4 linked regions of the Homo sapiens genome follow. The protein of the gene in region 3 purifies or fractionates together with the protein of the main gene of each other region. This does not show direct contact. Each region holds a gene or a part of one and is shown on either strand. Other genes may lie near its edges.

Region 1 (3,500 bases), on a different chromosome or scaffold from region 3:
GGAGCGGCCACGTTGGTAGCCCCACTGCACATCATCACTCCTCTTCCCAGCCCATTTTGTGGGGCAGAGGACAGGAGGACAAGGGGGTGACCCCACCAAACAGTCTGACTCTTCCCACTTCTCCCACAGGCACGTTTTGGATTCTCAGAGTATAATTGCTCAAGCGGCACCTCATGAAGAGGAACAAAGGTGACTATTGTCTGATAGAGCCGTAGGTGTCTGGAAGAATGGCCCCCTACCCCTTCCTTGTCCCCTCCCCAATGCAGAGGCCACAACTACCAGCTTAGCCTTTCCTGTCTGGGCCCTGAGACCGGAGCAGATCCAGCTCAGGGTCATTCCAGGAAGACCCAGTGCAGCAGTGTGGCAGGTGCTGAGCTGTCTCTGACCTTGGACCTCATTCCGAATCACTGGGCTCTTGTCTTGTTCCTAGGACCCACCAGTATCTGAAGCCTGACATCCTTGCCCCAGGTCTGGGCTCCCACTCCAGGATTCTAGTTTCCTCAGAGCAGCAGCCTTGCCATACCACCTGGCCCTGGCTCTGATGTCCTTCCTGAATCTAGCCCAACAGCAGGGGAATGGGCAGAGAGCTTTGAGCCAACGCAAGCTGTCCTTAGCTAGAGAGGGGCCCAGCATGGGCAGTGGGGAAACTGGGAGGCTCAGAGTCAGGGGTACATGGGTTACACACCAGCTCTACCCTTCAGCACTGGGCCAGCGCAAGCATGTCACTTAACCTCTCTGAACCGCACCTAAAGCAGAGGGGTAATTAATTGTAATAATAGTGATGATGATGATGATGATGATGATGGTGATAGCTATAGCTACCCTTTATTGAGCTCCAGTGGGTTGCTGTGAGCACTTTACCCCTTACCTTCTTAAGTCATAATTGTGCTAATATTGCTGAGCGCTTACTGTGTGCCAGGTACCATTTAAAGTGGTCCTCACATTTGTTTACTTCATTTAATCCTAGCATGACCCTCAGAGCTAAGAACTTAATCTCATTTACTCATTTACTCATAACAATCCGGCAAGGTAGGACTGCTTACAACCCCAGGTCCAGGTTACAAAGCACAATGTAATGATCTTTCACCAAGGCTGCTTCTGAGTATAAATGAGATCTTTCCCATGAATCTGATTGGCCCGTAGTCGGCAGTGAATGAACAATGCTCTTGGTATCTTGACCACCACCACAACTGCAGCCTACTGCCCCTGCTACCCTAAACACAGAGGCATTCTGGATCACCAGGTCACTGTGCTTTGACCCTTGTCAGTGTTCAATGTAAATTTGGATGGAGGGCCGGGCGCGGTGGCTCACGCCTGTAATCGGAGCACTTTGGGAGGCTGAGGCGGGTGGATCAGTTGAGCTCAGGAGTTCGAGACCAGCCCGGGCAACATGATGAAACCCGGTCTCTACTAAAATACAAAAATTAGCCAGGCACAGTGGTGGACACCTGTAATCCCAGCTACTTGGGAGGCTGAGGAAGGAGAATCACTTGAACCCAGGAGGCAGAGGTTGCAGCGAGCCAAGATTGTGCCACTGCACTCCAGCTTGGGTGACAGAGAGTCGGTCTCAAAAACAAACAAACAACAACAAAAACATTGGCTGGAGGATTGACATGGGAACCAGTTGCCCACAGACGGCTCCATTGCCAACACTTCTGAGCTTCACTGTGCCACCCTGACTTGTTTTCTATGAAGTCTTGAGCTCTGAGCCTCAGTTTCTCTTTTAACTAATGGGGATATTAACTTGCTTGTCAGTGTGCTTTATAAGCTGCTTTTTAATTTAATGTGTTAAGTGTTCTCTATTTTGCCTTATTCTAGGAAGAATTTCAAGTGGCTTGCAAAGATTGATAAAATACAGCAAAAGTGTTATATGTTGGAACTAAAAGAGAAGGAATATTTAAAAACGAGGGAGGCAGAAGTAAGGCCCAGAATGCAAGTCTGTGTTTTCTGTTGGCCACAGAAGAGGCTCTAAGATCCTGATTCTCTACCCAGGCTGCACAGTAAAATCTCCCGGGCAGCTCTTAGACACCTTGAAGCCTCAGCCACGGCCCAGACCAGCGGCAGCGCCATCTCGTCAGGTGGGGCCCAGGCATCAGGGTTTCTGGTGCAGCCAAGGTTGGACACTACTGTTTTGGGTGCTATTCTTGGGGCATCTGCTCTGCGCTAACTCACACAGTTTCTTAATACGTCTATCTTTGGTGTTGATCTTTGATTTCATACGGTGGCTTTGCTAAACTGGAAATGAACAACAGGAAAATGCGTGTCTTGGAGGTGACTGCGACATCGGGACTTTAGGGCTCCTTTCTCAGCACACCCGCATGTCACCCCTTGCGGTTAAGTGTGCTGACGAGAAGACACCATCTGGCAAACAGCCTTCGGCTCCTGGTGCTGCCTTCCATGCCTGGGACGGATGGCCAGGGTGTGTTGGCAGGTGGCAGAGTGTGGAATGCCTATGGAATGTCACATCAAATCCCCGAGCAGAGGGCCTTTAATGCTGTATGCCCAGGGAGGGAGTGATGAGCTCGGGGCTTGCTGGCCATGGGCTCTGCCTGGTGGCAGAAGCTGCTGGGAACCAGGCTTTAACCCTTTGTTGCTTAGCCCTAAAAAGTGGCCCAGGCCCCTCTGAGCCTTGGGGGACAGAGGGAAATGGGGCCCGGGGGTGGAGGTTGAATAACCAGGGAATTCGCCCTGGGAATCCACGTGAATCCAAGGTAGATGAGTTTACAGGAACATCAGCCATGGACACAGTGTTCCAGGCAGGACGCGCCTTACTCTCTGATCATCCGCAAGGCCACCTAGTGCCCCTTCAGCTTCTCCTCCAGCTGGGGCCAGACTGCCAACACCTCTGGGTTCACTTGAAGGCAGCCCAGATGAAGGTCCCAGCCCTGCCGCTATCTCAAAAATCACTTCCATATCTGACCTTGGCTTCCTTCTCTGTAAAACCAGGGCCTGAATTAGATCAATGGTCCCTGCAGCTATAGACAGGCTGTATCTGATTTGCTCAGGGAGCTTTTCAAAGAGACAGTGGGGCTCCTTCTCTCCTGGAGATTCTGATTCACCGGATCTGATATGGCATTTTAAAAATAGCCCAGAGGGACATGGATGTGCAGGCTAGAATTGGGGGGCAGTGGGCCAGGAGATTTCCAAAGTGCACCCACTTCCCGTGTGTTCACTCTGGATCTCTCTGGGGTCAGGCTCAAGGTAAACTGTGTTTGCCCAACTCTGACTGATGCCCGATGATTTGTGGAACTCAAGAGAAAGGAGCCGTCTTGTCCATGCCCACTGCCTGGCTTGAGCTGCTGTCTGAACCGCTCAATCATGGAATGCACTCTCCCTAAGTAAGAGTGGGTGAGCATAGGACGCCTGAGCACACACTGGGTGCAGGCGCTCTGCTAGGTGCTTTTTTCCATTCTATATCCGTACGTATCCATTTTACTGGTCCTCCGACAACCCCATGAGGCGGGTGTAACCATTTCCCATTTTATAAATGAGGAAAATGA
Region 2 (2,632 bases), on a different chromosome or scaffold from region 3:
CTACTCCATGTATCCTTCCACCTGAGGCTGGGGTGGGCGGGGAACGCCCAGGGCAGAGCTGGGGAGCCACTTCACAGTGAGCTGTTTGCCTCCGCTCCCCACCACCGCAGCCAGGCTGGGACACAGGGTGGGCTGTGCACGGGTTGGGCAGCCCAGGCCCCAGCAGCCAGGCCCCTCGCCAGGACCATGTGGCGATCAGCGGCAGACCCGCCAGTCTAAGTCCTGGTGAGTGGTGGGCAGGGGGTGTCACCAGAGGGCCAGGGCCAGCACTGAGGCCTCCCTGTTGGACTGCTGGGATCCCCTCTGCCCGCTCCTGTCAGTCATCCCCCTTGACCGGCCCCTCTACCTCCTCTGCCCCATCTCAGCCCTGCCGCCCAGCCGGACCTTGCGACAAGGAGCACTGGGCAGGGTGGTGGGAGGGAGGGCGTGGGCAGCCCCGAGTGCCAGACCTGTTGGAACCTCCCGTGGCTGCCTCCTGGCTCTGTGACCTCAGGCAGTGGCTGCCCCCGACCTTTTTTGAGACAGGGTCTCGCTCTGTCCCCCAGGCTGCAGTGCAGTGGTGCAGCTGTGACTCATGGCAGCCTCCACCTGGGCTCAGGCCACCCTCTTACCTCAGCCTCTGGAGTAGCTGGGACCACAGGCACACACCACTGCACCTGGCTTTTAAATTTTTTGTAGAGATGAGGGTCTCACTATGTTGCCCAGGCTGGTCTCAAACTCCTGGGCTCCAGTGATCCTCCCGCCTCAGCCTCCCAAAATGCTGGGATTCCAGGCATGAGCCACCGTGCTCGGGCCCCTCTCTGTGTTGTCTTCAGTAAAGGGAGTTCCCTGTGGCCCCTCAGGCTGAGCTGGGCTGTTCCTTAACCACATGGCTTCAGTGTGGCGGGCGTGTTTGTGTGCCTGCTGGAGTACCCCCGGGGGAAGAGGAAGAAGGGCTCCACCATGGAGCGCTGGTGAGTCTCCTCCTGCTCTGGGGTCTCTCCGGGGGCTGCGGGGCCCAGGCAGGGCTCACAGGGTTGGGTGGAGCTTGGTTTCTCACTTGGAGGCTCCGGAACCAACCCTTTGGTGCTTGTGGGTAAACCAAGGCCGGTGCCTGCCCGGTGTGTTTTGTGGGAGGAAAGAGGCCTGGGTGCCCTGGGGTGGTCAGCAGGGCAGCAAAGGAGTCCCGAGTGGGAGAGGCCCAGCCGCGCCGTCTCGCCTTCCTCCCTCCCCCAGGGGACAGAAGTACATGACCGCCGTGGTGAAGCTGTTCGGGCCCTTTACCAGGAATTACTATGTTCGGGCCGTCCTGCATCTCCTGTGAGTCCCCGTCCCGCACCCCCTCTAGGGCTCAGGAGGGCTTGGAGCCGACCCTCCCCACTGTCCCACCGGCCGGGCTGCCTGGACAGGAGCCACCCCCACTTACCTCAGTGTTTTTCCAAACAAAAATTCGGGTCCCTGGCTCTGGCAGGGCCTGTGTCTGCTGTCTAGTGTGCAGGATTTGTAAGGATCCACTCCAAATCCGAGGAGCTCCGATCCGTCGCCAGGGTCTGGGGTCAGCATGCACTGCTGGGGGGTCTTGCCTGGGCTTCCTGGTAGGGTGGAGGGTTCCGTGCTGTGTGTCTGCTGGTTACTGCCGGCTGAGGCCAGGACACCCACACGTGGCTGCTTCCTCCGAGCAAGTGCACCAGAGCCGCTAGTGTCCACATCAAGGCTGAGAACACCCAGGACCGAAACAAGCCCCGGTCCGCGCACGTCCCCTGGGTCTGCAGTCTGCCTTGTCCTGAGACTTTGTGGCCTTGGCCCCCAGACCTGGGGCTCCGTTCCCCTTTCTGAGTGCCCTTCTGTGTCCCTGCCTCTCACCCGCTGTCCCCCAGGCTCTCGGTGCCCGCCGGCTTCCTGCTGGCCACCATCCTTGGGACCGCCTGCCTGGCCATTGCGAGCGGCATCTACCTACTGGTGAGTGGCGCCCTCTGAGGTCGGCCCCGGCCACCCCCATCCCCAGCCCCTGCCCTGACACCCTCGGACACGCATGGCCCTTGAAGCCGGCTCTGTAGGCTGAGCCAAGGCTGGGAGCAAGTGTGAGCCTGGGCGTGTGCTCACAGCACGGCGGGGACGCAGCGGTTGCTGCTGCCATTTTTGGCGTGTCTAGTGTGTCGGGTCATTTCCTTGCATTTCCTCATTAACCCGCACCACAGCCCTGGGAGGGGTACTGGGGTCCCCACTTTACAGACAAAGATGCGGAGGCTCAGGGAGGTGCTGTGACTGGCCTGGGGTCACGCAGCCGGCCGAAGACCGTGCCTGCGCTTGGGTCCCATTATCAGGCTTTTCTCACCTAAACCCTATTCGCGCTGATTCATGGGCGGTGCCAGGACGCAGACATTTTCTTAAACTGCCGACACCTGCGTTTGGTTTATGACTGCTGCACCCTGTTAGAAGGCTGCCCATCCCATGGGATACAGTGATCTCTCTGAGAGGCCAGGGATGGGTGGGAGGACAGGGCGCAGCCTGGCCAGGCCTTGGGTGAAATGCCCTCTGCCTGCCCTGGGCTCCGGAACAGACGGCTGCAGGCCACCTCTCACTGCGGGGGTCTCTGGGTGGACAGAGCCCTCAGACTTTGCTTATTTAAATCCTTTTGTCCATAGAGCCAAGT
Region 3 (5,632 bases):
TCTTTTCCTAACTGAATACCCTTTAAGTGCCCCAATTAAGAGACACAGACTGGCAAATTGGATAAAGAGTCAAGACCTATCTGTGTGCTGTATTCAGGAAACCCATCTCACGTGCAGAGATGCACATAGGCTCAAAATAAAGGGAGGGAGGAAGATCTACCAAGCAAATGGAAAACAAAAAAAAGCAGGGATTGCAATCCTAGTCTCTGATAAAACAGACTTTAAACCAACAAAGATCAAAAGAGACAAAGAAGGCCATTACATAATGGTAAAGGGATCAATTCAGCAAGAAGAGCTAACTATCCTAAATATACATGCATCCAATACAGGAGCACCCAGATTCATAAAGCAAGTCCTTAGAAACCTACAAAGAGACTTAGACTCCCACTCAATAATAGTGGGAGACTTTAACACCCCACTTTCAATATTAGACAGATCAATGAGACAGAAGGTTAACAAGGATATCCTTGACTTGAACTCAGCTCTGCCCCAAGCGGACCTAATAGATATCTACGAACTCTCCACCCCAATTCAACAGCATATACATTCTTCTCAGCACCACATTACACTTATTCCAAAATTGACCACATAGCTGGAAGTAAAGCACTCCTCAGGAAATGTATAAGAAGAGAAATCACAACAAACTGTCTCTCAGACCACAGTGCAATCAAGTTAGAACTCAGGATTAAGAAACTCACTCAAAACTGCTCAACTACATGGAAACTGAACAAACTGCTCCTGAATGACTACTGGGTAAATAATGAAATGAAGGCAGAAATAAAGATGTTCTTTGAAACCAATGAGAACAAAGACACAATATACCAGAATCTCTGGGACACATTTAAAGCAGTGTGTAGAGAGAACTTTATAGCACTAAATGCCCACAAGAGAAAGGAGGAAAGGTCTAAAATTGGCACCCTAATATCACAATTAAATGAACTAGAGAAGCAAGAGCAAACGAATACAAAAGCTAGCAGAAGGCAAGAAATAACTAAGATCAGAGCTGAACTGAAGCAGAGAGAGACACAAAAAACACTTCAAAAAATCAATGAATGCAGAAGCTGGTTTTTTGAAAAGATCAACAAAATTGATAGACTGCTAGCAAGAATAATGAAGAAAAGAGAGAAGAATCAAATAGATGTAATAAAAATAATAAAAGGGATATGACCACTGATCCCACAGAAATACAAACTACCATCAAAGAATGCTATAAACACCTCTACACAAATAAACTAGAAAATCTAGAAGAAATAGATAAATTCCTCGACACATACACCCTCCCGAGACTAAACCAGGAAGAAGTTGAATCCCTGAAAAGACCAATAACAGGCTCTGAAATTGAGGCAGTAATTAACAGCTTCCCAACCAAAAAAAAGTCTAGGATCAGACAGATTCACAGCCAAATTCTACCAGAGGTACAAAGAGGAGCTGGTACCATTCCTTCTGAAACTATTCCAATCAATAGAAAAAGAGGGAATCCTCCCTAACTCATTTTATGAGGCCAGCACCATCCTGATACCAAAGCCCGGTAGAGACACAACAAATAAAGAGAATTGTAGACCAATATCCCTGATGAACATTGATGCAAATATCCTCAATAAAATACTGGCAAACCGAATCCAACAGCACATCAAAAAACTTATCCACCGAGATCAAGTTGGCTTAATCCCTGGGATGCAAGGCTGGTTCAACATATGCAAATCAACAAATGTAATCCATCACATAAACAGAACCAAAGACAAAAACCACTTGATTATCTCAATAGATGCAGAAAAGGCCTTCAACAAAATTCAGCAGCCCTTCATGCTAAAAATTCTCAATAAACTAGATATTGATGGAACGTATCTCAAAATAATAAGAGCTATTTATAACAAACCCACAGCCAATATCATACTGAATGGGCAAAAACTGGAAGCATTCCCTTTGAAAACTGGCACAAGACAGTGATGCCCTCTCTCACCGCTCCTATTCACCATAGTGTTGGAAGTTCTGGCCAGGGCAATCTGAAGTAAATTTCTTATGAACTCAGGATTAGGCAAAACTTCTTAAGTTATTTAAGTAAAGACAAACTTACTTGTGTATTTTCTCCCTTTTCAATTATTCCCTTCTATTTTCATGTTACCAATTTCATGTATATGGGATGTATAGATGCAGACAGATGGGAACATGTTTTACAACATGCTTTACAACATGTTCCCATCTGTCTGCATGTATACATACCATATATATAAAATAGTTTTGCTATCTTTCTTAAGTATACATTTAAACATGTGGTCTCTGTTCTCAATTATCTTTCTTAGAAAATGAATAAAGTCCAAATATCCAACTTCAATGAGAATATTAAATAAATTACAGTACTTTCCTACTGTGAAATATTATATGGTCATTAACATGAATGAGGCACATACAGTAATATGGAAAGATGTCCATCACATGTAGTTGAGTGAAAGGAGCCAGTTACAAAACAATATGATCCAGCAAATAAATGTTAGAAACTCATGTATGCAGAAGCATATGGGAAAATATCTGGAAAGACATATGTCAAACAGTAGAGAAAAGGATTGGAAAGTGGGGAAAAATTTTTTTAAGTTTGTATTTTATTTTATATCTGTGAATTGTCTAAATGTTTATAATGAACTCATGCTATTTTTATAATTATAATAATATTAAATGATATGCTGACTAGCTAATCATATTTGATGGTGTCCATTATTTAGCTAGATGCCCTCCCATGCCATTATTTACTCCATTTGATTTTTCTAATTTTATTTCCATTCTCTCTCCCATTACACTGGATTTTACCTTTTCTAAACACTGCCTGTTTTGTTTAATGTTTCCACCTCAACCCAGAGTATCCGTATTTCCCCTAAATTCCATCTCCAAAGAAAATTGTGCATATATAAGATTTCCATATACATTAAAATACTCCATAAAAGGAGAAAAGTAAATATTCAAGAAATTAAATATATATATATATATATATATATATATATATATATATATTTGTTTTTTGAGACAAGGTCTCACTCTCTTGCTCAGGCTGGAGAGCAGTGGTGGGATCAAGGCTCAATGAAACTTCAAACACTGGGGCTCAAGCAATCCTCCTGCCTCAGCCTTCCTAGTAGCTGGGACTACAGATGTGTACCACCACATCTGGCTTTTTTTTTTTATTTACTGTAGAAACAGTGTCTCCTTATGTTTCTCAGGCTGATCTTGAAATCCGGGGCTCAAGTGGTCTTCCTACCTTGACCTCCAAAAGTGCTGGGATTACAGGCCTGAGTCACTGTGCTTGGCCTATATTTTGAATCAACAAGCTTTAATACGTTTTAATTCATTACTTCCTGAATTGCAAGGTGTCAAAAAATAATAAAGTGTAGTTACACAGTTCTTGAGCAGATAACTATTTTCCTTGTAAAAAGATAGCTTACTTAAACATCAAGAGTACTATGATAGCCTTGAATACCTTTTAGAATGAGACAGGACACAAAAAAAGAAAAATATGCATAGCACCCTACAAATGTGAAAAAGCAAGAGATATGTTTCTTACCATTGTGAGGGTAAATGGATGATTTTCTAATGCAGATACACTGGGACAATGTAGAGTAATATACTAAAAAGCAACAAACAGATAAGTTTTAAATGACCAATTAAGAATTTCAACTATTTCAATGATGCTATGTTTGCTAAATTCCAAAAATTACATAAGGATAAAGGCTATTTAAAAAGTTGCTGACCACTGACTCACCTGACCAGGTCTTGCTTTAAAATTTTCTTTGACCATTCGGATTTCCATGACATCTGAGGGATGACTCATGACCGAAATGATGGTGACTGGCTTATTGCTCCGGATATACCTGTAAAGTCTTTCGGCACAGTACAGGCACAAAGGTCCAGAAATCCAAAGCCAAGTCTAAGACAAATTTTTGAAAATATACTTCAAGAAATACTCATATTGTAGAAATCTACACCCTGCCCAATTGCTTATTGCATACATTACAGTAATAGTATTTTAATTTGTATTTTAAATAAGAAAACATAACAAATGAGTAAAAAATAATAGATGCTCACTATCATTCAAACAAACAAAAGTATAAAATAAAACAGAAAGTAATATCAAGACCCTACCCTCAATCTCATGCCCTGGGTGTAACTATCCATGAGCAAACAAGTATATATTCTTTCATACACCTTTCTATGCCTACAGATATGTAATGTATATACACAATATATTTAATAAAAGAATAAAGGGGAGTTAACAATCTCCGATAAATCTGGGGATAATTTTAGAAATAAGGTAACAGTCTAATGTTTATTAAATAAGAAAACCCTAGATTTTTAATGTACATAATGTATATGCATAATATACATACATATAATATGTATATATATATATGTTAAATATGTATAGCACATATGTTTAAAGATGCAATATGCTAGGCATGTTGTTTACCACTTACTTTTATATAATATAATAAGAACATAAAATAATATTTATAATTTGGAAACCATGACAGTTTTGAATATGTGTTGCATGGTTAGCCCTGATCCCAGGACACATGCAAACTTTGGGAAGTGCAGAAGCCTATGTGGCTTACTGTTCTCCTAAAATTACACACTTTATCTTTCACATCCCTTTGAGGCCTCCAACTAAAACTTGTCTTAATGGTCACTTTTTAAAGCCTCACTTTAGTTGTTTCAAATCTTCCTTCTTTCATGCAGACAGACCATGCCTCTTCTGCATATAATAACATTTAGCCCCACACTGTGTTATGAGTAGCACTACAAGACAAGGTCTGCAATGTAGCAGCCTTGCACCTTTGAGACAATCACTTACTCTTTGAGTGTCAGGTCCCACATGAGCAAAATGGGAGTCGCCATACCTGCCCTAATATTTGTGAATATTATGTGAAACTCAGAAAAGTTCTGAAAATTATAGAGGCTAATAGGGATCTAGAGGATTATTATTAATAATAATAAACACGACTAATACACTATTCCAAAGTCATCTACAAATTCATTCTAGCTTTTGACTTCTCTTTCTTCTCTTCCAATAGAGACATTTGACATCACTATTTCCTACTTCCACTTTTTATAGGTGAGGAATAAAAGGTGTAATTTGCACGGGGGCAGTTCTCACAGGCACAGAGGAAGATAAGGGCCCTTATTGAACTAATCGCTGAATACTTATGGACGTTTACCAGGAGCAAGCATATTAGTCAAAGACCTGGGTTTACATGCTTCCTCTGCCACTTACTGGTTTGGAGATTTTGATCAAGGTAAGTACAATTTCTTTATCAGAAAATCGAGGGTGATATTAATTACTTCAAATAGTCATTGCGAATATTGCAAGAAACATTCTGTATGTCTAATAAGTGTTCTGTATTAGGCATACAGGACATTTTAGCACAATGCCTGGCAGATAATATTAAGCATTCAATAAATTGATTTTGCTATTTACTATTTACAATATTATACATAATAATATAATACAATAAAATAATAATTTGTGGTATTGGTGGTAGGTTTTTTTAACTACTATTTTTATTATTCAATCAGCTTTTCTCAAATGATGGGAAAAAATATTTGTCATCTCTTGGCTGCAAGCACCAATGCTGTTGTATGCAAAGGTCAT
Region 4 (3,500 bases), on a different chromosome or scaffold from region 3:
GTCGTCATCGTCATCATTATCATTCCCCACAGCAAGCCTAGACTGTCATCTGTTAAATGGGGAGTGGAGGCAAGTACTATCTCATTTAACAGATGAGGCAGGTGAGGCCCAGAGAGGTCAAACCCTTTGCCAAGGTCCCAGAGCCAGGAACTGAGATTCAGACCCCAGAGCCTCCCTGCATAACCCCTAATTCCACACTCGGATCCTCTTGAGAACAATGGGGCCTGGGCTTCTCTTGTTGCAGGAAGCCAGCTCGGAAGCTCAGTTTTACACCAAAGGTGACCAACTTATACTCAACTTGAATAACATCAGGTAAACACACAAATCATCATGAAGATTCTGCTGATGGAAATGAGTCCCGCCTGGTAACCATGGGTTTCTTTAAACACCGACTTTGTGGCTGTCAGGTGAAGGCGGCTCCAGGGTAGGCAGGGAGGTCCTTCCGGATGCTCCTGCTGACAAGGACTGCATGTGAGGGAATGGGGAGGAAAATGAAGTAGGCCTTGCAGCAGCCACGGCACAGGCAAACCCTAGCCGCGGCCAGCCCACTCTGGACACCTCCCAGGCCGTGGCAGTGACAGTCACCCGGCACAGAAGTGCAGGGCTCCAGCTGCCTCCTGCACCCTGCCTGTTCTCCCTCCCCGCCACTTTCCTGTGGCCCCAGAGTGAGTGCAGGGGCTGCCAGCTGGAGCCTCTGGGGACAAGTCAGGCCCAGGGCTCTTTTGATCAGCCCACATAGGGCTGGGCTGTTTAATATAAATGAGTTGTGCACATATCAAATCAGACTATCTGGCTGCCCTGTGCCCACAATCCTACATAGCAACAAACTGTCGAGCCAGGAATTGGGGCGCCCTTTGAAGGAGCTTGGGCCTCCTTGTCCACCACAGCCCTGACTCCTGAGGTTGATTTTTCTGCTCACTGGACTGCTATTTGTTTTCTGTGCCCCCTCTATGCCCCCCACCCCACCCCTGCCATTAGAATGCAAGCTCCACGACGCAAGGGCTTCATGTGGTTCACTGGAGCCCGCACTGTGCCTGGCACATAATAGGTGCTCAATAAATCGCTGTTGAATGAGTGGATGGTGAATGAGTGGGACTTCAGGGGCCGCTCTCACAGGCATCTTCCATTGCAGCTCTGATCGGATCCAGCTGATGAACTCTGGGATTGGCTGGTTCCAAGTAAGTGTTAACAGGTGGTGCCTGAGGGCACAGGGGGTGGCCTGGAATGGTCCACTCTCAAAACAGATATTGCCCAGGATTTGCTTCAAACAAGGTCCCCACAGAAGCACCATGGGGGGCTGGCCGGTCTCCACCAAAGTCCAACTTCCCTCGAGTGTTTACAGAGAAGCCACCACGTGTCAGACACAGCTGAGAACACACACACGCACACACAAATACACTCACAGATACACACTTTCTTTCAGTGAAGTTTTGATCCTGAATTAGAACACAAGTGCCCTTGACTCACAATCTCATTCTGCACACGTAGACGCGCCTCAGTGCCCCTAGACAGCCCTTTCCTGCTGGGATTCAGACCGAACCCCAATACCTCAGTCTGGCGTGTTTTCTCTGGTTTTTATGATTTGTTTTTCACTATTTTTGACTTTTTTTTTTTTTTTTTTTGAGATGGAGTCTCGCTCTGTCGCCCAGGCTGGAGAGCAGTGGTGTGATCTTGGCTCACTGCAACCTCCATCTCCCGGGTTCAAGCAATTCTCCTGCCTCAGCCTCCTGAGTAGCTGGGACTACAGGCGCCCACCACCACGCCCGGCTAATTTTTTGTACTTTTAGTAGAGACAGGGTTTCACCATGTTAGCCAAGATGGTCTCGATCTCCTGACCTCATGATCTGCCCGCCTTGGCCTCCCAAAGTGCTGGGATTACAGGCATGAGCCACCATGCCCGGTGACTAATATTTTAAAACACGGAGAGTTCCACATGCAAATCAGGACTTCTGGCTTCCCTCCAGAAGTCAGAAGTTCAGGCAATGCAGGGCAAAATTCCCTCAGGGCAAATTCAGCTGCAACAGAGTGGTGGGGCCCCTGAGGATGGGGCATCCTCCAATGCACCCCAATCCCCCCATCTACCAGGCCCCAGGGGCGGCTGAGTTCATGCCCCAACCCAGCCCATCTGGTCCCTGGGAGCCCCCACAGCTCTGATCAGCAGGGGACCTGGAATTCCTACATCTCCACCAGCCACCTCACCCATGGGGAGGAGCCACACCCACGAAGAATGATGGGGGGGAACTTCAGATGCTCAACCAGGGTGACAGTGCCCCTTCTCTCTCTCACAGCCTGATGTTCTGAAAAACATCATCACTGAGATCATCCACTCCATCCTGCTGCCGAACCAGAATGGTGCATACCTCTGCCATCTGTGCCCCCTCTCTCCCCAGGGCTTGGCTTTACTTCCCCTGCCCTCATCTCCATGAATGGGGCCCCTTTCATTCATCTCCCAGCCATCCCTCAGAGCCTACTTCAAAATCTGCCTCCTCCCAAGAACCTTCTCAGCCCAATTCCTTTGCTAGTGCCAGAGGCTGGGCTCGTAAAGATGAACCAAGCAGTGGGCCAGACTTGCAGGGCTGGAAGGAGACAGAGGCATAAGCAGACAATGAGAGCAATGACAGAGGTGTAAGAGACAACTGGAGGCGCCTCAGCAGACCCTGTTCCCCCTCTTGCTAGTGCCTGGCCTTGGTCAAGCTGCACAATCCTTCTGAGCCTCAGTTTCTCCATCTGTAAAATGGGGACGTAGAAGTACCTTCTTCAGAGGCACAAATCAGGAGGTGCCTGGCACAGTCAGTGCCCAACACTCTAATTCAGCCCCAGGTTGAATGAGGGGTGGGAAGGGTTTGTAACCTATACAGTTCCACCTTTTTAATTTCTTTATTTTATTAGACTGGAAAAATCTCAAAGTATAGAAACCTCTGCTGGGGATAATGGGAGCCCCTGATGGTTCTTGAGCAAGAGCGTAAGAGAATGTGAGGACTGCATTTTGTGAGGGGCCAGAAGCCAGTGCCAGAGGCAAAGGGAGGGTAGACGAGGCTGGGTCAATGCTGGGGCCAGAGAACAGGCGAGCAGAGGCAGAGGGGGCTGTCTGATCAGGCCTGCCAGGCCGGGGCTCCCCTTCAGGAACCCTGAGCCTGCCCCTGGCTGCCCAGTCTCACCCCAGGCCCATCAGTTTCTGACCACATTTGTTATTTCAGGCAAATTAAGATCTGGGGTCCCAGTGTCATTGGTGAAGGCCTTGGGATTCGAGGCAGCTGAGTCCTCACTGACCAAGGTGAGTGGGTGTGGCCCTAAACATCCTGCCCCAGGGAGGGCACAGCCACTGAGAGCCCTGGCTGGGAGGTGGGGCCTGCACTCCAACCCCAGCCTACAGGTGACCCTGGGCAAGTCCCTTCCCCTCTCAGGGCCTCACCTCCTCATCTGCAAGTGAGAAGGTTGGCTGTGCTGAGGATGGAACCCTCCTAGCCTGGGGTCAGTACACTTTTTCCACCCCCTTGTCA

Evidence for each region. The genes of interacting proteins can lie anywhere in the genome.
Region 1: the proteins of NOX4 (region 3) and ASB2 purify together in Homo sapiens (affinity purification with western blotting; one study listed by BioGRID). This does not show direct contact.
Region 2: the proteins of NOX4 (region 3) and CYBA purify together in Homo sapiens (affinity purification with western blotting, with the first as the bait; one study listed by BioGRID). This does not show direct contact.
Region 4: the proteins of NOX4 (region 3) and BPIFB1 purify together in Homo sapiens (affinity purification with mass spectrometry; one large-scale study listed by BioGRID and IntAct). This does not show direct contact.

What each region holds. Positions count from the first base shown.
Region 1 is NC_000014.9:93,942,071-93,945,570, forward strand, and holds part of ASB2 (ankyrin repeat and SOCS box protein 2), read right to left. Parts: intron 1-3,500. UniProt on the Homo sapiens protein: Substrate-recognition component of a SCF-like ECS (Elongin-Cullin-SOCS-box protein) E3 ubiquitin-protein ligase complex which mediates the ubiquitination and subsequent proteasomal degradation of target proteins.
Region 2 is NC_000016.10:88,645,422-88,648,053, reverse strand, and holds part of CYBA (cytochrome b-245 light chain), read left to right. Parts: coding exon 1-9; intron 10-878; coding exon 879-953; intron 954-1,215; coding exon 1,216-1,299; intron 1,300-1,856; coding exon 1,857-1,938; intron 1,939-2,624; coding exon of another isoform or gene 2,625-2,632. UniProt on the Homo sapiens protein: Subunit of NADPH oxidase complexes that is required for the NADPH oxidase activity that generates, in various cell types, superoxide from molecular oxygen utilizing NADPH as an electron donor.
Region 3 is NC_000011.10:89,396,470-89,402,101, forward strand, and holds part of NOX4 (NADPH oxidase 4), read right to left. Parts: intron 3,911-5,632; coding exon 3,746-3,910; intron 3,611-3,745; coding exon 3,548-3,610; intron 1-3,547. UniProt on the Homo sapiens protein: NADPH oxidase that catalyzes predominantly the reduction of oxygen to H2O2. Can also catalyze to a smaller extent, the reduction of oxygen to superoxide. May function as an oxygen sensor regulating the KCNK3/TASK-1 potassium channel and HIF1A activity.
Region 4 is NC_000020.11:33,303,714-33,307,213, forward strand, and holds part of BPIFB1 (BPI fold-containing family B member 1 precursor), read left to right. Parts: intron 1-244; coding exon 245-312; intron 313-1,132; coding exon 1,133-1,178; intron 1,179-2,288; coding exon 2,289-2,352; intron 2,353-3,197; coding exon 3,198-3,274; intron 3,275-3,500. UniProt on the Homo sapiens protein: May play a role in innate immunity in mouth, nose and lungs. Binds bacterial lipopolysaccharide (LPS) and modulates the cellular responses to LPS.